Regions from separate parts of the Homo sapiens genome. Here region 1 is linked to region 2. Evidence: fine-mapped expression QTL. A gene starts in region 2. The other region holds a variant in brackets. All regions are shown on one strand. Distances are from middle to middle. Region 1 overlaps C2CD4C (C2 calcium dependent domain containing 4C). Region 2 holds the start of SPMAP2 (sperm microtubule associated protein 2).

The links.
Region 1: its variant is fine-mapped to the expression of SPMAP2 in thyroid (GTEx, PIP above 0.99).

Annotation. Positions count from the first base shown.
Region 1 is chr19:395,028-405,489 of GRCh38, forward strand. It overlaps C2CD4C (C2 calcium dependent domain containing 4C), which reads right to left. Exons shown (of 2, transcript NM_001136263.2): 2 at 10,418-10,462. Among named protein-coding and RNA genes, the nearest start is that of C2CD4C, 8.9 kb to the right of the region's middle. RefSeq lists an enhancer at 2,959-4,158. The variant C/T (reference allele first, on the strand shown) is at 6,403.
Region 2 is chr19:370,746-381,207 of GRCh38, forward strand. It overlaps SPMAP2 (sperm microtubule associated protein 2), which reads right to left and starts at 5,281. Exons shown (of 8, transcript NM_016585.5): 1 at 4,918-5,281; 2 at 3,554-3,676; 3 at 3,195-3,266; 4 at 2,725-2,786; 5 at 1,886-1,955; 6 at 460-577. The coding sequence starts at 5,225.

The DNA of each region.
Region 1 (10,462 bases), 24 kb after region 2:
GATAATGGGAAGGATGATGGGGAAAGATGATGGGAAGGATGATGGGGAAGGATGATGGAGAAGGATGATGGGAGGGATGATGGAGAAGGATGATGGGAAGGATGATGGGAAGGATGATGGGGAAAGATGATGGGAAGGATGATGGGGAAAGATGATGGGAAGGATGATGGAGAAGGATGATGGGGAAGGTTGATGGGAAGGATGATGGGAAGGATAATGGGAAAGATGATGGGGAAGGATGATGGGGAAGGATGATGGGAAGGATGATGGAGAAGGATGATGGGGAAGGTTGATGGGAAGGATGATGGGAAGGATAATGGGAAAGATGATGGGGAAGGATGATGGGGAAGGATGATGGGAAGGATGATGGAGAAGGATGATGGGGAAGGTTGATGGGAAGGATGATGGGAAGGATAATGGGAAAGATGATGGGGAAGGATGATGGGGAAGGATGATGGGAAGGATGATGGGAAGGATGATGGGGAAGGATGATGGAGGATGATGGAGAAGGGTGATGGGGAAGGATGATGGGAAGAATTATGGAGAAGGACGATGGGAAGGATGATGGGAAGGATGATGGGGAAGGATGATGGGAAGGATGATGGGGAAGGTTGATGGGAAGGTTGATGGGAAGGATGATGGGAAGGATGATGGGAAGGATAATGGAGGATGATGGAGAAGGGTGATGGAGAAGGACGATGGGAAGGATGAATGGAGAAGGACGATGGGAAGGATGAATAGAGAAGGACGATGGGAAGGATGAATGGAGAAGGATGATGGGAAGGATGAATGGAGAAGGATGATGTGAAGGATGAATGGAGAAGGACGACAGGAAGGATGAATGGAGAAGGACGATGGGAAGGATGATGGGAAGGACAATGGGAAGGATGATGGGAAGGATGAATGGAGAAGTATGATGGGAAGGATGAATGGAGAAGGACGATGGGAAGGATGAATGGAGAAGGTTGATGGGAAGGACGACGGGAAGGATGAATGGAATGGGTGATTGGGCACCAAGTGAGAGCATTCGGTGACACCTTTTTTTTTTTTTTTGAGACTCCCTTTTTTTTTTTTTTTTGAGACGGAGTCTCGCTCTGTCGCCCAGTCTGGAGTGCAGTGGTGTGATCTCGGCTCACTGCAAGCTCTGCCTCCCAGGTTCATGCCATTCTCCTGCCTCAGCTTCCCACGTAGCTGGGATTACAGGCGCCCGCCACCACGCCTGGCAAATTTTTTGTAATTTTAGTAGAGAGGGGGTTTCACCGTGTTAGCCAGGATGGTCTCGATCTCCTGATCTTGTGATCTGCCTGTCTCGGCCCCCCACAGTGCTGGGATTACAGGCGTGAGCCACCGCACCTTAAGTAATATTAACCGCTTTAACACGACCAATTCAGGGTCTTTTAGTGCCTTCGCAATGTTGTGCAACTATAACTTCTATTAAGCTCCAAAACATTTTTTTAAAATAAATTGTCGGGCCGGGCATGGTGGCTCACGCCTGTAATCCCAGCACTTTGGGAGGCCGAGGCGGGCGGATCACGAGGTCAGGAGATCGAGACCATCCTGGCTAACACAGTGAAACCCCGTCTCTACTAAAAATACAAAAAAAAATTAGCCAGGCGTGGTGGCAGGCGCCTGCAGTACCAGCTACTGGGGAGGCTGAGGCAGGAGAATGGTGTGAACCCGGGAGCGGAGCTTGCAGTGAGCCAAGATCGTGCCACTGCACTCCAGCCTGGGGGACAGAGCGAGACTCCGTCTCAATAAATAAATAAATAAATAAATAAATAGTCAGTGTCTTGCTTTTTGGCCCAGGCTGGAGTACAGTGGCATATTCACAGCTCACTGCAGCCTCCAATTCCTGGGCTCAAGGGATCCTCCTGCCTCAGCCTCTCACGTTGCTAGGATTGTAGGTACAAGCCACCATGTGTAGCTCCCCAAACCATTCTTCTTATCTCAGAAAGAAATCCTCTGGATTTAGCTATATTTGACATTTCATGTAAATATAAGCAGACAATATGCGTCCTTTTGGCCTGAGTTTTTTCACTGAGTGTCATGTTTCAAGGCCGTGCTCCATTTTTTTTGTGATTGACTACTATTCCAGCCTACGAATATGCCGCACGGTGGTTCATCTCTCTCTGCCGATGGACATTTGGGCTGTTTCTACGTTTCGAATGATGTAAACGAGCTGTGTGTCTTCTTCAATAAATGCCCATTGAAGTCTTTTGCCTATTTTTTAATGGGGTTGTTGGTCATTTTGTTGCTGAGTTGTATGCATAGTTTATGTGTTCTGGATACTTGATCCTGATGAGCTCAGTGAACATTTATAAACAAACTGACCATAGCAGCCCCCACTCCAATGAAAACGCCACCTGTGACGGCCCCCAGAGGCCCCTCGTCCCTCCTGGTCCCTGCCCCGGGGGCCCCATCCTGACTTCCATTGCTGGCAGCGGGTAGGTTCATGTCGGCTGCTCTTGAATTCCTCCTGCCTGGGCTGCCCCGCGTGATCCACTGAGTGTGGCAGAGACGTGTCGTGCTGCTGCCTTCAGCAGCTCCACCTGCTTGCTGAGAAGGTTCCCGGTGCGTTTGGAAGGCAGAGGCTCCTGGGCTTGCAGGTAGGTGAACGCGCTGACAGAGAGGACTCGGCCGGCGCACCCCCTCACCCCCGTCCACCATCCTGAACACCTAGTCCTCACACATCCTGGAAGATTTGCAGCCTCAGTCTCTTCCAAATGTGTCTTACTCCTCTCTGCTCACCCTGGTGCCAGGCATCCGCCTTTGCCCATCCAGACCCAGCACCAGTGCCCTGCCCTCCCCTTGGCTTCTGTGCTGCCCGGCCATGCCCCTTCCTTCCAGACAGTTCAGGTCATCCTAAAACGTTCATCCAAGCCCTTTGCCCACAGGATAAAGTCCACACTCCTCTTACAGTCCTGTGACCCACAGGCCTCCTTGGAATTTTGGGGCTGAGTCCTTTCTGCTCTGGGGCTTCACAACCCTTTTGTCCTCTGGCCTCCTCTTCCAGGAAGTCCTCCAAGGGCAAGCCTTGCAGGACTCAGACTAGGCACCCACCCCAATGCTTGTCGATGAGAAAGCCTCAGTCAGGAAGGAACTCGGGCAGACCAGGGATGGTGCCCCTGCTCCATGACATCTGGGAGTCTGCTCTAAGACCAGGAGGCTGGGGCCCACCTGGGCTGCCAGCTGCACCTGCCTCCCTGGGCCACCTCCTTTTCATGGCCTGGGTTTGGAAGCTACCCACTGCCACTTTGTATTGCGCGGAGCAGTCTGGAGGGGACAGGCCCAGTGGCCACTGCTCCATGGGGTGAGTCTCAGCTCTGGAGAGCGCAGGGCCGGGAACATCATGTCAGGGACACCCTGGAGCTGTGGTATCCCCGACACGAGCATAAGGCACAGCAGCACTCAGTCCACATTTGCCAAAGGAAAGGGGAACAGCCAACACGCATGACCCCTCACCGCGTGCAGACGACGCGTGACCCCTCACCGCGTGCAGACGACACGTGTGACCCTCACCGCGTGCAGACGACACGTGTGACCCTCACCGCGTGCAGACGACACGTGAGACCCTCACCGCGTGCAGACGACACGTGAGACCCCTCACCATGTGCAGTCACCTTGCTAGGCAGCTTATGTGCCTTCTCTCGTTTCATCCTCAGGTTTGGGAAAATTATCCAGAACTTGGAAAGGGGTAAAAACATCACTGCCTGCTCTTTGGATCCTGGACCCTCGGCACGGTGGGCCTCAGAGCTGATCATTCCCTGGGGTGGGGCCGTCCTGGGCACTGCTGGGTGCTGAGCAGTGTCCCTGGCCTCCGCCCACTCCACACCAGGAGCTCCCCTAGTCGTGACAACCACAGAAGCCCCAGACGTTGCCCCGTGTCCCCGAGGGGCCGAATCACCCAGAGGATCAGTTGTATTCCAGAGCCTCGACCAGCCCGGCCACCCGGGGGTCACTTTGTGGACGCTTCCCTCCACTCTTGCCAGTGTCCTGGCTCTGGGGTTGGACGCTGCTTGGGATTGACAAATGCGGATGAGTTTTGTCCCTGAGCGGCAGGTGCCTCCTTCCTCCTGCTGCGTATAAAACTCAGTCCAGTCCTGCCGTTCCTTAGTAAACACTCGGACGCACCTTTGACCTACAGTGGCCCGTGGTCTGAATGAGGTTTATGCGTGAGTGCTTTGAAAGCTCAATGTTGCCATCACCTGAAGCCTAGAGGGCAGTGTGCACTGGGCACCTCACTTACACAGGAGGAAACTGAGGCTCAGAGAGGGGGAGGGGCTGGCAGTGTGGGAGCTGCAGTCCTTGATCTGAGCTGTCCCCGTGACTTTGGGAGATGAGGAAGGAGCATTCTGTGGCTTGGCTGGGGGAGCCCAGGTGGGAGGGGAGGGTGGGGACACAGTGGCTGGTGGGCGGGGGGGTGCCTCTGAGCCGCCTGGGCCACAGGCAAAGGGGTTAGGGAGGTGAGAGGGGAGCTTGGGGGCAAGGGTCATGTGTCTCCACGGCCGGGCAGGTGCACACTCCCAGGGAGGCCACGAGGACTCTGTGGCCCGGGGATTGGAGTGAACCACGCTGAAAGGTCAGAGGGCAGTGTCCCAACAACAGTGCCCCCGTTCCAGCCCCAACGGCAGCCCAGGGGTTCCCAGGCCCACCCTCACTCTTGCAGGGGTCCCCAGGCCCACCCTCACTCTTCCAGGGTTCCCAGGCCCACCCTCACTCTTCCAGGGTTCCCAGGCCCACTCTCACTCTTCCAGGGTTCCCAGGCCCACCCTCACTCTTCCAGGGGTCCCCAGGCCCACCCTCACTCTTCCAGGGGTTCCCAGGCCCACCCTCACTCTTGCAGGGGTTCCCAGGCCCACCCTCACTCTTCCAGGGGTCCCCAGGCCCACCCTCACTCTTCCAGGGGTCCCCAGGCCCACCCTCACTCTTCCAGGGGTCCCCAGGCCCACCCTCACTCTTCCAGGGTTCCCAGGCCCACCCTCACTCTTCCAGGGTTCCCAGGCCCACCCTCACTCTTCCAGGGTTCCCAGGCCCACCCTCACTCTTCCAGGGTTCCCAGGCCCACCCTCACTCTTCCAGGGTTCCCAGGCCCACCCTCACTCTTCCAGGGTTCCCAGGCCCACCCTCACTCTTCCAGGGGTCCCCAGGCCCACCCTCACTCTTCCAGGGGTTCCCAGGCCCACCCTCACTCTTGCAGGGGTTCCCAGGCCCACCCTCACTCTTCCAGGGGTCCCCAGGCCCACCCTCACTCTTCCAGGGGTCCCCAGGCCCACCCTCACTCTTCCAGGGGTCCCCAGGCCCACCCTCACTCTTCCAGGGTTCCCAGGCCCACCCTCACTCTTCCAGGGTTCCCAGGCCCACCCTCACTCTTCCAGGGGTCCCCAGGCCCACCCTCACTCTTCCAGGGGTTCCCAGGCCCACCCTCACTCTTGCAGGGGTTCCCAGGCCCACCCTCACTCTTCCAGGGGTCCCCAGGCCCACCCTCACTCTTCCAGGGGTCCCCAGGCCCACCCTCACTCTTCCAGGGGTCCCCAGGCCCACCCTCACTCTTCCAGGGTTCCCAGGCCCACCCTCACTCTTCCAGGGTTCCCAGGCCCACCCTCACTCTTCCAGGGTTCCCAGGCCCACCCTCACTCTTGCAGGGGTTCCCAGGCCCACCCTCACTCTTGCAGGGGTTCCCAGGCCCACCCTCACTCTTCCAGGGTTCCCAGGCCCACCCTCACTCTTCCAGGGGTCCCCAGGCCCACCCTCACTCTTCCAGGGGTCCCCAGGCCCACCCTCACTCTTCCAGCGGTTCCCAGGCCCACCCTCACTCTTCCAGGGTTCCCAGGCCCACCCTCACTCTTCCAGGGTTCCCAGGCCCACCCTCACTCTTCCAGGGGTCCCCAGGCCCACCCTCACTCTTCCAGGGGTTCCCAGGCTCACCCTCACTCTTCCAGGGGTTCCCAGGCTCACCCTCACGCTTGATGATTTGCGAGGACGCACGGAACTCCCAGCAAGCTGTCCTCGTCACAGGTAGGGTTTGTCACAGTGCCGGGGTGCAGGTGCCGTGGGCTGGGGAAGAGCACATGAGGCAGCGTCCCGGAGAAGCCCCGTGGTCCTGTCCGGGGAAGCCGGGAACTGCTCACTCACAGGGCGCACGGACCACCAGGAAAGGGCACGGCAGCCTAGGCGCCCAGAGCTCTGCGAGGGATCCCTCGTGGGGGCTTGATTGACTGATTGCTTGCCACGGGGTTGCCCTCGAACTCCAAGGGTGTCTGACGCTGTGAGACCCAAGGCGCTCCCAAGTCCCACGGTTGGTCTTGCTGGTGTGACCCTCCCTACCCCAGACCAAGACGCTCCCCTCAGGCAGGGCAGAAATCACCTCCCAAAGCCAAGGCAAAGCCCAGACCTCACCCCGCA[C/T]GAGAGGATTCCTCACCCCACGGGGGAAGGTGCGGGTCTCATCCGTGGCACCGCAGCAGGGCTCAGCCGGTGACCAGGACTGGGTGCCACGGGTGCTGGGTCCGTGCCCACTCCAGCCCCACCAGCAGGCAGGGAGGGTACAGGGTGCTGCAGAGGAAACCGAGTCACAGAGAACGGAGGGACTTGTCAGGATTCTGACCCATGGCTGGCAGAGCACAGCTCCCTGGGGCCCTCTCTGCCAGATGGCAGGGGCCGGCCATGCAAGCAGGTGTCCAGTCCCACCCAGGAAGGGCAGCGTGGGTCCAGCCCTGGTCCGAATTCCTGTCCTGTCAGCTGGGAGGTGTGCGCAGGCCCCTTTGCCTTCTGTGCCTCGGTGTTTCCATCTGTGGATGGCAGTAGGCAGCGTCTTGCTGAGGATTCAGCGGGTCCTCCCGCCCACCCACCCACGATGCGCTTAATCAACAGGCCCTGCCCTGCGTGTGACCCTGGAGAGAGGCTCTGGGACCACGTCACTGTACAGTAGGGTAAACTGAGGCTCAGGCGCCGGCCCGCGGGAATGGCCCGCCCTCGTGGGAGGAGCATGTGTGCGGGTCGGCGTCCGCCTCCTCCTTTTTATTGAAGTCATTTTTCTCCTCCTGTCAGCGGAACTGGCCGTGGGCAGCCCCTCCCTCCCACCCCCAGGAGCTGAGAAGAAAACAAAAGCTTAATCGAATCCGGCACTGGGGCGGTGGGTGCCGCAGAGAGAGGCCGAGGGAGCCCCCGCCTGGGTGGGTCTGAGGCCGCCTGTAATTATGGCCCTGATGTGATTATATTAATTATCGTCGCTATTTTGTGCCGGCTTCCGCCCGGCGAGCCTGTGGATTGAGCTCTACTGCACACAAGCCGCCAGGGCTCATCACAGACAGAGCCTTCGGCCTCGGGAGCCTGAGACCCAGAGAAGCCACGCACTGCCCCGGGCCACACCCCACGTGGAAGGTGGGGCTTGAAACTCACCCTGCGGCTCCCCACACACGTCAGGGTTAGAGGTTCAAGGCCCCAGAGAGGACAGGCCGCAAGGCAGGGGCCCTGGGAAGGTGTTACTCCTCCTCCTCGGATGGGAGAGACCCACTGGATCAGTGTTCTGTCACCTTAAAAAATGAATCAGCCGGACGTGGTGGCTGACGCCTGTAATCCCAGCACTTTGGGAGGCCGAGGCAGGCGTATCACCTGAGGTCAGGAATTTGAGACGAGCCTGGCCAACTTGGTGAAACCCCGTCTCTACTAAAAATACAAAAAACTAGCTGGGTGTGGTGGCGGGCGCCTGTAATCTCAGCTATTTGGGAGGCTGGGGCAGGAGAATCGCTTGAACCCTGGAAGAAGAGGCTACAGTGAGCCGAGACTGCACCTCTGTACTCCAGCCTGGGCGACACAGCAAGACTCCGTCTCCAAAAAACAAACAAACAAAACAAAACAAAAAAACTGAAACAAGCCGGCTTGAGCAAACAAGGCACTTTACCGGCCCACCCTCTGAGCTGAAATGGTGCGCAGTTATGGACTTCAGGCATAGCTGGATCCAGGTGTCCGCAATGTCTCCAGGCTTCTGACTCTTCATCTGTTGTTCCCTATGATGGCTCCCCTCTGAAGAAGGGGCATCTTTTTGTAATTTGCACCAAACGGGGTGCCCCCCGCTTGTGGTGCCCATGGCCTTCCTGAGGGTCGGGAGACTCAGGATGGCCGCCAGTCTGAAAGGAGAGACTGCTGGCAGGTGTGCCTGCCTCCTTCACCGCACAGCACCCACTGGGGCCGAGCGCTCTGTGGCGCCAGGGATGCTGGAGGTGCAAACAGTAGATTCGTTCTGCTCAGGATCAACATCACAAGGCAGCAAACGGCCACAGCCAGGAGGGAACAAGGGCATCTGACTCCCCCGGGGTGGGGGCTGACCTGAAGGGCAGTGGGCCAAGACCTGAGGCAGGGCGAGACACCACGCAGGCGCAGAATCCCTGGATGACGCCCACTTGGAAGTGGAGGGGGGAGGGCATGGGCAGCTGCAGCTCCCAGACACCAGCACACACAAACGCACACACAAGTGCACACCAGCAGCGACACAGGCACACACAAGCGCACACAGGGTCACACATGCATACACGGCTCACGTGCTTACACGTGCACACGCCAGCACACAGGCAGCTATACTCGAGTGCCTGCAGGCGCTCACCTGGCACTGTCACATACGCCCAACAGATGAGCACGGTAACGGCACACGCAGTCACACTGCACACACATGCGGAAGCACATGGCGACGTGTGTGCACCTACCTGGCACGCACACGCACACACCCGTGCAGCCTAGCGATGAGTGGCTGGGGCTGAAGAGGCTACAAGGCGCCCGTAGCCCTGTCAACCCGTCCCAGGCCCTGACTGGGGCTCACCAGGCCGCGGTCAGGAGGCCGGGCTACGCTGAACCCCAATTCCCAAAAGCTCCTGGTGGATTTGAGATGGCAGAGACATCTGGACCCCATGGGCAGCAGGAGAGACAGAGCAGCCCAGCCTGGGCTGAGAGCACAGGGACGGGTCCTGCCCCGAGGGGTGTGAGGGGGGGACGGGGTCCTGCCCTGAGGGGTGTGGGGGGGACGGGGTCCTGCCCTGAGGGGTGTGGGGGGGACGGGGTCCTGCCCCGAGGGGTCTGAGGGGGGGACGGGGTCCTGCCCTGAGGGGTGTGGGGGGGACGGGGTCCTGCCCTGAGGGGTGTGGGGGGGACGGGGTCCTGCCCTGAGGGGTGTGGGGGGGGGACGGGGTCCTGCCCTGAGGGGTGTGGGGGGGACGGGGTCCTGCCCTGAGGGGTGTGGGGGGGACGGGTCCTGTCCTGAGGGGTCTGAGGGGGGGACGGGGTCCTGCCCTGAGGGGGTGTGGGGGGGACGGGGTCCTGCCCTGAGGGGTGTGGGGGGGGGACGGGGTCCTGCCCTGAGGGGTCTGAGGGGGGGACGGGGTCCTGCCCTGAGGGGTGTGGGGGGGACGGGGTCCTGCCCTGAGGGGTGTGGGGGGGGGACGGGGTCCTGCCCTGAGGGGTGTGGGGGGGGCACGGGGTCCTGCCCTGAGGGGTGTGGGGGGGACGGGGTCCTGCCCTGAGGGGTGTGGGGGGGACGGGGTCCTGCCCTGAGGGGTGTGGGGGGGACGGGGTCCTGCCCTGAGGGGTCTGAGGGGGAGACGGGTCCTGCCCTGAGGGGTGTGGAGGGGGGATGGGGTCCTGCCCTGAGGGGTCTGAGGGGGGGACGGGTCCTGCCCCGAGGGGTGTGGAGGGGGGAACGGGGTCCTGCCCTGAGGGGTGTGGGGGGAACGGGGTCCTGCCCTGAGGGGTGTGGAGGGGGGATGGGGTCCTGCCCTGAGGGGTGTGGAGGGGGGACGGGGTCCTGCCCTGAGGGGTGTGAGGGGGGGACGGGGTCCTGCCCTGAGGGGTGTGAGGGGGGGACGGGGTCCTGTCCCGAGGGGTGTGGGGGGGGGACGGGGTCCTGCCCTGAGGGGTGTGGGGGGAACGGGGTCCTGCCCTGAGGGGTGTGGGGGGAACGGGGTCCTGCCCTGAGGGGTGTGGAGGGGGGATGGGGTCCTGCCCTGAGGGGTGTGAGGGGAACGGGGTCCTGCCCTGAGGGGTGTGGGGGGAACGGGGTCCTGCCCTGAGGGGTGTGAGGGGGATACGGGGCTGTGTCTAGAGGGGGTCTGTGGAGACAGGGTCCTGTCTGAAGGTTCTGAGGGGAGGCGGGACCCACCCTGTAGGGACCGTGTGGGGTCCGAGTCCTGTTTCCTGACATCCATGTAGTCAAGAGCTGGAACCGTGAAGCAGAACCCAGACCTGCCGCTCCAAGGGAGGTGGTTTATCAGGGGCTGGGCTCCTGCCCCCGCCTGCCTCCACCCGGGGCAGGAGAATGCGGAGGGCAGTGGAAAGGACCTTGCCAATCTGGAATCCTCTTCTCCTTCCTCCCTGGAGTTCACCGCAGAACTCTCTCGTTATTAAACAGCCAGGGAAGCCAACCTCCACCCCCGTATTCCCGAAACACCTTTATTGCACTATAAACAGCATTTATAAACAA
Region 2 (10,462 bases):
CGACGACAAGGAATAAACTACCGACGCACGCGAGAGTCTCAGATGCAGGGCGGGGGGCGGCAGAAGCCGGGTCAAGCCCGCAGGCTGCGGGGTTCAGACTTTCGGAAAAGCAAAAGGTACAGGGCGTAGAGCGAGGTCAGTGGTTGCCGGTGGCCAGGAGTCCGGCCTGAGCTGGGGCGAGAGATGAGCGCTTTCTGAACACCTGAGATAAGACTGTTCTAATTCCTGAGTGTGAGCTGGAAGCTTTGGGATCCACCCGGACTGAAGCGCAGGGAAGGATGACCCCTGGGCGGCTCTGAAGACAGTGAGAGATCAAAAGAAAGCTGCTCCCAGACAAAGGCAGCCGCCCTGTGCAGCTTCTCCTCCTCCCCTGACTCCCAAACGCAAAGCCTCTTTCACTCTCTGCCGGGTCCCAGCCCGCCTGGCGGGGGTGAGTCGCGGGGGGCACGGGGCACCCACCTCAGACATGGGCATGCTCCAGAAGTTATCACGAATCTTCGGGGCGGCCAGTTCCTTCAGGCGACTCGACGCTCTGTATTCCAGGGAGGACCGAGGAATGGGCCAGACAGGAGTCGTCCTGGGGGAGGTCCCCATTTTAGACCAGCAGCTCGGCCGGGGGTGGGGGTGTGTGTGTGTGTGTGTGTGTGTGTGTGTGTGTGTATGTGTCTGTCTGTCTTTCCCAGCTCCTCCATATGTGTCTGTCTGTCTTTCCCAGCTCCTCCTCTGTTTCTGGGGTTAAGAGAGCCTGGGAGAGTGGTGAGTTTTGAAAGCGTCTCCAAACAGGGATTCGTAAAGAATTTCTAAGAGTTCTCAAGTACAGAGCTACCATCTCCCAGGGTTGTCTCTGCTCAATGTGCAACGTCCACCCTCAGGTCCAGGCCTTCTCCATTCCCTTCTGGGACGGCAGCTCCTCCCAGGCCTTCTCTACACACCCCCATCATCAAGAGCCTGGCGTGAGCACTTGGACCCAAGGGATGAAAGTGTCTGTCCTGAGGTTGCAAAGCTGGGGAAAGCGAAGGACAGCTGAGCTCCCGGGGCTGTGCCTTCTGAAATCAGGTCTCAGCTATGCCTCTGCTCGGAAATAAAGCCGCATTTCATTGATTCTAAGGCAAGGTCTCCACATTGAACAGGTCTGAGGTTAGGATGCAGCTTACGAGTGCTGCCAGCCAGATGGCGGAAGTGTCCTGGCTACATCTGGCTGCATCTGTGTGTGCTGTTCACGTGATCTGCACTGCTGCTTCTACAGGAGTTAAGTTTAATTACAGTTTAAATTGTCTTCAGGTCACAGTATGATTTGGCGTTAAAAAGTGCACAGAGGCGTGAGGACAGTGTGTGCGACACCCACATCAACGTCTGTGTCAGAAGTGGTTCAAAACAGTTGGACACACTTCCGCTGTCTACTTCAGCTGTGCTTTCCTTCATACGCTGCATAAAAGATGGGTAATTATATGTTGTGTCTAAATAACTAAAGATCACTTTTAACAAGCACAGGGGCTGTAAGTGGTAAGAAAGAATTTTGTACATAAAATACTAATGTGTCTTAGAATTTCCACCTTTTTTGAGTAAACAAAATACAGTCACAATGGTGATAACATCTGAGCACGCACTGTGTCAGGCGCTGTGCAAATCCCCGTTCACGGGTGCCCTCCACCACCATTCCACAGCTGGCAATGCAGTTGCACGGGGCCAAGCAGCCTGCTGGGGATGTGGACTGGGAAGCAGCCTGCTGGGGATGTGGGCTGGGAAGCAGGCCAGCCCCGTCTGAACACCAGCTGTCTAGGGCTAGGACCTGGACCCTTTCCCACACAGCATCCTGTCAGGCGAGAATAAGGCATTTCTGCCAAACTCTGCCTTCTGAGTAGCCACCCAGCCCTCCTTCCCCCACCTGTTGTTGTTGTAATATTCCAGGTAGAATCTCTTGGGCCGAGACAGTTCCTCCACGCGGCGGGACACCGCTATGCAAAATGGGAAACGGAGTCAGTGAACCCCAGTGTCAACACCCTGCAGTTCCCAGGGGCTTCTGCATGCGGAATTCAGCTTTTCATGAGCTTGGGCAGGAGGCTGAATTGGAAGAACTGTGGGCAGAGACAACTGGGGGCCAGACACCCTGCAGAGAGAAGATTTGCTGTCCCTGATTTAGGGACAATGGGCTCAGAGGCTTGAAGGTCCTTTCTCGGACACCGGATGGGAGTGGCAGGGCTGGAACAGCAGCCCAGCACCGTGGCTCCTCAACGGGGCTCAATACAGATCCAGGGACCCACAGGCTGGGAAAATGGGTTTTGTTCTGAAGTTAGTACAAGCCTGGGGTTTCCAGGGGCCTAGTGATGACTGTAGGTCTAAAGTCAAGAACAGCACAGGAGAGAACTGGACTGTTATTCTCCTCTATGGGGAACTCTCGAAGTGTCTCATTTGAAGGTATCTATGATACCTCAATACCAAATTCCTCTCAAGAAAAGCATGGAAATCATTGTGGAAGGGAAAGCAAAGGGTCTTTTTGTAAATTCTTGCCCCGATTTGGCCCTATCCTAGAGAGTGTTCCCCATGCCCCTCACCCCCAGGACCAGTCTCAGCTCTAGCTCCTCAGGGGACAGACTCCAGTGGGGAGGACAGAGGCTCCGAGGAGATGGGGCAAGGGAGGCCAGAAGTATCTAGATGGGGCGGGGCAGGTTCCCTGGAGGCCGGCAGCCGGGGGCAGGGGTCTCAGCAGGCACGGGCTCCACCTACCGGGCACTGTGATGGTGAGGGTGGTGTCCTCAAGGAACCGCTCGGTCCAGTACACAGAGGGCCTGGAATAAGCGGACGGCTCAGGGCAAGGGAGGCAGAGAGCCCTGGCCCTGCCCGGAAACAAGCCTGGGTCTCTGCCAGGAGGGTGGCCGAGGTGGGGTGTGGAGTTGCTGGGAGAGGGGGTAGGCCAGAGAAGGACAGTGGGGGGGCCGGCGGGACGCGTGGATTATTGTGAGCAAGGCTGATGTCCAGAGAAGGAGGTAGCTGGGGGAGAAGCATAGCTAAGAAGAGGGCCCAGGGCCACCTCCTGGGAGCAGACCCAGGTCACAAGGGTGGAGAGCCCCACATCTGAGGAGCCCTCCCTGATCCTCCTCCCTGGAGAGAGGAGGGTGGCTGGAGTGAAGGGGTCCCCTGGAACCTGACACGTGTCCCCCAGCATAGGCACACGGCGGAGACAGCCCTGGACTTACCAGCAGAGACAGAAGTGCAAGCTCATCTTACATGGGGAGATCCAGGCATACCCCTTACCACAGCGTCCCTTCCTGCGAGGAGACAGGGTCCGAGCCCCACTGCCTCTTGCCCTGGGTCTCCCGTTTGCTCCCAAACTCCTCACTCTCCTTTGGCCACCGCCCAGAGGGCCACCGTTCCCTAGCCACTCCCAGTGTCTGGCCACCTCCTTAACTGGCCAACCCCACCTACCCTAAGTTTGCTGGATGTGGTGGCAGCTGGGGGAGGGGAGCCGAGCAGTGGGGACAGGAGGAGCCCGGGAAGGGTGCAGAGAAAGCCGCCCACGCTGCCCCTACGAGGCCGTGGTCTGGCGTGTCCTCACCTGTCTTTCAGGACTTGCCAGTTTATCTTGGGCTCTGCCAGCTCCATGAGCCTCCTCCGCCTCCTCCTCTTCCTTGCTTTGGTCATGGTGGTGCTGGGGAGCTTCTGGCTGATGGACAGCCGGCTTTGGGAGAATTCCACGTTGAAGTTGGAGCTGCTTTCCCGCCCCGATGCGTTTGGGAGCCCAGAGAAGCGTGGGTCTTGCTCAAGCGCCTTTTGTCTGCACTCACCCTGCCCACCCGCCTCTCCTTTCCCTCGAGGGGTCTCTGAGGGAGGACTTTGGCACCACGAAGGCCTGGACCAACCGCAGCTCCACTGCTCGCTGGATGGAAGACCCGTCCAGGTCACCTGTCTCCCCTGGTCCTCAGCTTCCTCCTCTGTGAATTGGAGGTGAGACCAGCTCCCACCTGGCGGGGCTGTTTTGGTGAGTACTAAGGTAGTGTTTACTCATCTCACAGACATCTGTCAAGTGCTTACTGTATGCCAGGCCCCAGAGGGGCAACCACCCTCTAAAGAGAGCGGCTCCTGCCTCCCAGAAAGCTCACAGACTGTGGGAGGGAAACAGGCAGCAGGTGAAGATGCCAAATGCCAGGATATCTGCCCTGTCCTTGCTTGATGCAGCTGCTGGCTCCCACGTTCTCCCCAGAATCCCCTCACACTCCTGCTGTTTTCTCTGCAGGTTGGCAGAGCCCCATGAGGGCAGGGCAGCCACTTTGTTCTTGGGCGGCAAACCTCCCTGGGCGGCACGGAAACCACGGTGAGAAGGGGGCAGGTCGGGCACGTGCAGGGACCACGCTGCAGGGAGGACGGGAGCCGAGTCCCAGAGGTATGTAGAGTGCGCGCCTTGCTGGGGACACTCCAGCAACTGCCCAAAATCAGCGCCCCCAGTGCTGATTGGCCGAAGCGTCAGTTCACCCAGAACGTGTTCCTCCCGACCATTTAAAACCTTTTAGCCACGTGTGGTGCTTAGAATGGTTTCAACTTTTGAGTTGGGAGGCTTTTTTTTTCCCATTTCTTATTCTCTCTGTCTGACTTGAGGCCATCACTCGCTAAACTCTGAACTCTGGGCACCTGAACTCAGTCTGCCTGACTCCAAACTCAGCGCTGTTTACTCCTCCTCCTGCCACCAGATAGGGGAGCGTCTGCTGGTGTCTGCCTCAGGGCCCAGTGAGGGGTGCTGGCCGCCAACCGACCAAGCCCACACCTAGGCTGACTCGGCAGGGCCGGGCCCCTCGGGAGCAGCGAGCCAGGCCGGTGGCCGGTTACGACCCTTTCGCCCGCCCAGGGGGCTGCTGCCCTCCCCCCACTGCCAGGGGCTGAGCCCTACCCCACCGCACCCAGGCAGGCCCGTTCCCCGGTGCCCACCTGATTTCAGGAATGTCCTCTTCCAAGTCCTTGTCCAGGACTCTCTCCAACTCAGAAAGTGCCTCTTTGGGATCCAGGGTCTCCGGGAACTCCTCCCCGGCCACCTCCTCGGGGGGAAGCTCCTCTTCTGGGTCTTCTGGTCCCAGCTCTGCATTGTCCAGGTCCTGGCGTTCGGGGTCTGTGACCCGCCGGCTCTCGTACACAGAGCTCTGGAGGCCACGGGGGTCGCCGTCCTGCTCCCTTTCCGACCTGCCCGCAGCCTCAGAGCTGGGCTGGTTCCCGAGTGACCTTCGCCTGCTGTCCCCCATACACCGGTCCCTTCCCAGCCCCCGCGGCCTCACTCTCCCGGCACCCAAATGTGTCTGTGGTGGCCGCGGCAACAGGAGAGCGTCCGTCACATTCCCCACGGTCCACATTCTAACCCGTGCGCCGTCTCCAATGCTGGTCACCTGGGCTTGCGCTGGGATCAGGACTCAGTCCTGGTGGTCACGGCTCACTCAGGACCTCCCAGGATTGGTTTAGGAAGGAGACCTGACGGGAACCTGCAGGGGCATCTAGCTATGGATTCCCTCTCTCAAAAGGAGACACAAGGAAGAGACCGCGTCTCCTGTTCCTGTCCCTGTGGGGCCCGTCGGTAATGTCCAGAGCCCAGGCAGCCTTCTTGTGACCATGAGGCCTGCCATCTGAGGGCAGATGAACTGAAAGGTGGGCCTTTGATGTGGCTGTCGAGCCTCTGAACTTAGCAGCCTTGGAATCCACTCTGTGTCCAGGCTTCTTGTTACTTGAAACAGTAAGTTTCCTTAGTACTAAGTCGTTTTGGCTTGGTTTCCAATTCCTAGCAGCTAAAACTGCACCCTAGGTGATACAGACGCTTCCAGCCCCAACCTCTCATGAGAAATAACTTCAAAATAGGCTGTTCCAACCCTCACAACAAAATAATGGTTATAACTGGAGTATTCCCCAGGCTGCTGCCTTCAGGAATTCCTCGTACGTCGCCAAAGGAGCTGAATTTCCAGCCTCTCCCCCTCTGTGCCCCACCCAGCCTCTCCCCCTGTGTGCCCCACCCAGCCTCTCCCCCTCTGTGCCCCACCCAGCCTCTCCCCCTCTGTGCCCCCACCCAGCCTCTCCCCCTCCGTGCCCCACCCAGCCTCTCCCCCTCCGTGCCCCACCCAGCCTCTCCCCCCCCGTGCCTCCACCCAGCCTCTCCCCCTCTGTGCCCCCACCCAGCCTCTCCCCCTCTGTGCCCCACCCAGCCTCTCCCCCTCTGTGCCCCACCCAGCCTCTCCCCCGTGTGCCCCACCCAGCCTCTCCCCCCTGTGCCCCACCCAGCCTCTCCCCCTCTGTGCCCCCACCCAGCCTCTCCCCCTCTGTGCCCCACCCAGCCTCTCCCCCTCTGTGCCCCACCCAGCCTCTCCCCCCTGTGCCCCACCCAGCCTCTCCCCCCTGTGCCCCACCCAGCCTCTCCCCCTCTGTGCCCCCACCCAGCCTCTCCCCCTCTGTGCCCCACCCAGCCTCTCCCCCTCTGTGCCCCACCCAGCCTCTCCCCCCTGTGCCCCACCCAGCCTCTCCCCCTCTGTGCCCCACCCAGCCTCTCCCCCTCTGTGCCCCACCCAGCCTCTCCCCCCCCTGTGCCCCACCCAGCCTCTCCCCCTCTGTGCCCCCACCCAGCCTCTCCCCCCTGTGCCCCACCCAGCCTCTCCCCCTCTGTGCCCCACCCAGCCTCTCCCCCTCTGTGCCCCACCCAGCCTCTCCCCCCTGTGCCCCACCCAGCCTCTCCCCCTCTGTGCCCCACCCAGCCTCTCCCCCTCTGTGCCCCCACCCAGCCTCTCCCCCTCTGTGCCCCCACCCAGCCTCTCCCCCTCTGTGCCCCACCCAGCCTCTCCCCCTCTGTGCCCCACCCAGCCTCTCCCCCTCTGTGCCCCACCCAGCCTCTCCCCCTCTGTGCCCCACCCAGCCTCTCCCCCTCTGTGCTGTGTGCCCCCACCCAGCCTTTCACCCTTCTGTGCTTGGTGGTTTTCTACTCATCATTGAAGACTCAAGCCTGTCGGTCCCCCACGCAGGGAGAGTCCCTGACCATCCCTCCCCTTTCTGGGCTCCCAGGCCTAGGACCCCCACCCCTACCCCCACCCAGTGCTAGCCCACCCCGAGGACTGCTCTGTCCCTCACCCCTGCCACCAGCGTGGGGCCGGCCCTCCGGGCATGGTGACCACTCGGCACGCAAGAGACCCAGTTCATCGACACACACAAAGCCCTCTCCAGCTCCCATCCCATCTCCCTGATGCTCTGCTCCCAGACGCAGCCTCACCACCACCTCTGTCAGGAAAGGGGTCTCTCGGAGGACTCCAGGCAGAAGGGCCCCGGGGAGGATCCGGTCCCATCAAGGAGGCCATGGGAAAATCCCCTTTCTTGGCCGGAAGTCTCGTAAACCCTTACCTTGCACTCAATGATTTACTTTTCTCTCTTAAGTTAAACTGGATCAAGATCTGCGGGTGCCTTTCACAAAGAGATGAGTTAGGCATTGTTGCCGCTGGAGGGCCTGTGGCCACTGCAGTGTTTCCAGGAGACCTCGTTCAGAGCAGGGCGCCGCACCCCGAGGCTGCTCCCTAACCCTACTCCAGGGAGGCGCGGTTGGGGGTCTGGCAGCCTCCGGCTCTCAGCACCCAGGCAGCACCCAGGCTGCAGCGCGTTTAGCCCTCATGGCAGCCCGTTGTGGAGAGGAGAGGCAGATGAGCGCTCCAGGGTCATGGGGAAGCTCCCAGGGCCACGCGGCTGGTGGAGCTGCACCCGGCACCTTCTCGGGGGAGTCAGGGCTGGATGTCTCTACGGCAGGAGCCGGAGGAGCTCAGGAGCGCGCGGGGACAGCAGAACTCTGCCCGCACTCGGGGGAGAGTTGGAGGGTCCACGTCTGCTCCAACATCCTGTGGAAAAGCAAGACGTTCACAGCCAAGGAAGTGCATGATTTCTGAATGTTGTGTGATGTTGCTTTGAGCAGAAAATAGAGGGGGACGGGGACCGGGCTGTGGGATGTGTGGGGTTCTGACTGCCCGGACCTGGGGCGTCCGCCTGGCAGAAAATAAACCAGGTCCCTACTGTGTTCCTCTCTGCTGTGGCCGCCTTAACACATATCACAAGCAGAGGCTCCAGCAACACTGAGCGATTACCTGGCCGCCCTGGGCTCAGAAGCCCAACATGGATCTCACTGGACTCAAGCCACGGTGTGGGCAGGGCTGGTTCCTGCAGCCTTCAGAGGAAGGCCCGTCTCCTGCTCATTTGGTGGCCACAGAATTCAGTGCCTTGTGGTCGTAGGACTGAGATCTGCGTTCTTGCTGTGTGTGTCAGCCGGGGGCCCTTCCCAGCGTTGCTGTGTGTGTCAGCTGGGGGCCCCCCAGCACCCAGAGGCCACCGCTCTTCTCAGTCCTGGCCCCTCGCTCCATTTTCAAAGCCAGCAACGGCCAGTCAAGCCCCCTCACATGGATGCTCCACTGGCACTCATCTCTGAGCAGGGCTGGGAAACCCGTTTGGTTATTACGGAAACAGGTGATTGAAGGTCAGCCTGGATAAGCCAGGTGCTCTGACCCTCCACGTCTGCAACCCCAGTCCCACCTGCGAAGTCCATTTTGCCACATAAAATAACATGCTCCCAGTGTCAAACTCAAACGAGCACATAGAGAGGCATTTTTACGTAAGACATTTTGTTTGGGAAAATACATAAAAACAGAATTGAGACCTGGCGCGGTGGCTCATGCCTGTCATCCCAGCACTTTGGGAGGCTGAGGCGAGCGGATCATGACGTCAGGAGATCGAGACCATCCTGGCTAACACGGTGAAACCCCGTCTCTACTAAAAATACAAAAATTAGCCGGGCGTGGTGGCGGGCGCCTGTAGTCCCAGCTACTCGGGAGGCTGAGGCAGGAGAATGGTGTGAATCTGGGAGGTGGAGGTTGCAGTGAGCCGAGATCACGCCACTCTGCACCCCAGCCTGGGCGACAGGGCGAGACTCCGTCTCAAAACAAAAAACAAACAAAAAAAAACCAAAAAAAACAGAATTGCAATTTCGGGCCTGTACACAGACCGGGAGGTCTTCGGTATATCTGCAGCAGGTTGGGGCTTTTACTAGAAGGAACAATGTTGCGAATCATTTCGAAAGAAAGCTCGCAAGAACTGGAAGCTTTGGGAGCTGGTGAGCTGTGACTGGGAGGGAGGTGGGGGCAGAAGGGACCTGGTGAGCTGTGACTGGGAGGGAGGTGGCGGCAGAAGGCGTCTTCATTTAGCTGAGGTCACCTCCACAGCTCCCAGGTCAAATTGGCTTTAGGGTCACGGCAGGCGGTTTCGGGCGCTGGCCTGTGACGCCGTCCTGGGCAGGCGCGTGCATCTGAATGCTTTTTACCTGGTCTCTCGACTGTTGCGTTGGGTAACTCCCATCCATATCACCAGTTTCACACCAGGTTCCAGGGACGAGGATGTGGACACCGTTGGGGATCACTATTCCTTCTGTGACACCTACCTCATACCACACACAACAGCCCTCAGTGGATACGTGAAAGCTGAAACACAACTTCAAAACTTACAGAAAAAAATGAATGTGACCATGCTTTTGCGCTCCATGTAGGGAGTAATTTTTTTAACAAGACATGTAGAGTGCTAATCATACACGACCAATAAGTCGGCCATATTAAACTGAAGCCTCATGTTCAGGACTCCTCAAAAAAGTGGAAACAGAAGCCACGAATGGGAATGCAGCATCTGTCACATCTATAATTGATTAGTACCCACCATGAATAAATAGCTCCTATAAATGAATAAGAAAATAGATGAGTGCTGGCTGGGTGCGGTGACTCACGCCTGTAATCCCAGCACTTTGGGAGGCCAAGGCAGGCGGATCACAACGCCAAGAGATAGAGACCATCCTGGCCAGCATGGTGAACCCCGTCTCTACTAAAAATACAAAAACTTAGCTGGGCGTGGTGGCGGGCGTCTGTAATCTCAGCTACTTAGGAGGCTGAGGCAGGAGAATGACTTGAACCCAGGAGGCGGAGTTTGCAGTGAGCCAAGATCCTGCCACTGCACTGCGGCCTGGGTTACAGAGTGAGACTCCTCTCAAAAAAAAAAAAAAAGAGCAGAACCCTGGTGATGAGCAGATGTAGGACGTGGGGCAGAACCGTGGTGATTGATGAGCAGATGTAGGAGGTGGAGCAGAACCGTGGTGATTGATAAGCAGATGTAGGAGGTGGAGCAGAACCGTGGTGATGAGCAGATGTAGGGGGTGGGGCAGAACCGTGGTGATGAGCAGATGTAGGAGGTGGAGCAGAATCGTGGTGATTGATAAGCAGATGTAGGAGGTGGAGCAGAACCGTGGTGATGAGCAGATGTAGGAGGTGGAGCAGAATCGTGGTGATTGATAAGCAGATGTAGGAGGTGGAGCAGAACCGTGGTGATGAGCAGATGTAGGAGGTGGAGCAGAACCGTGGTGATTGATAAGCAGATGTAGGAGGTGGAGCAGAACCGTGGTGATGAGCAGATGTAGGAGGTGGAGCAGAACCGTGGT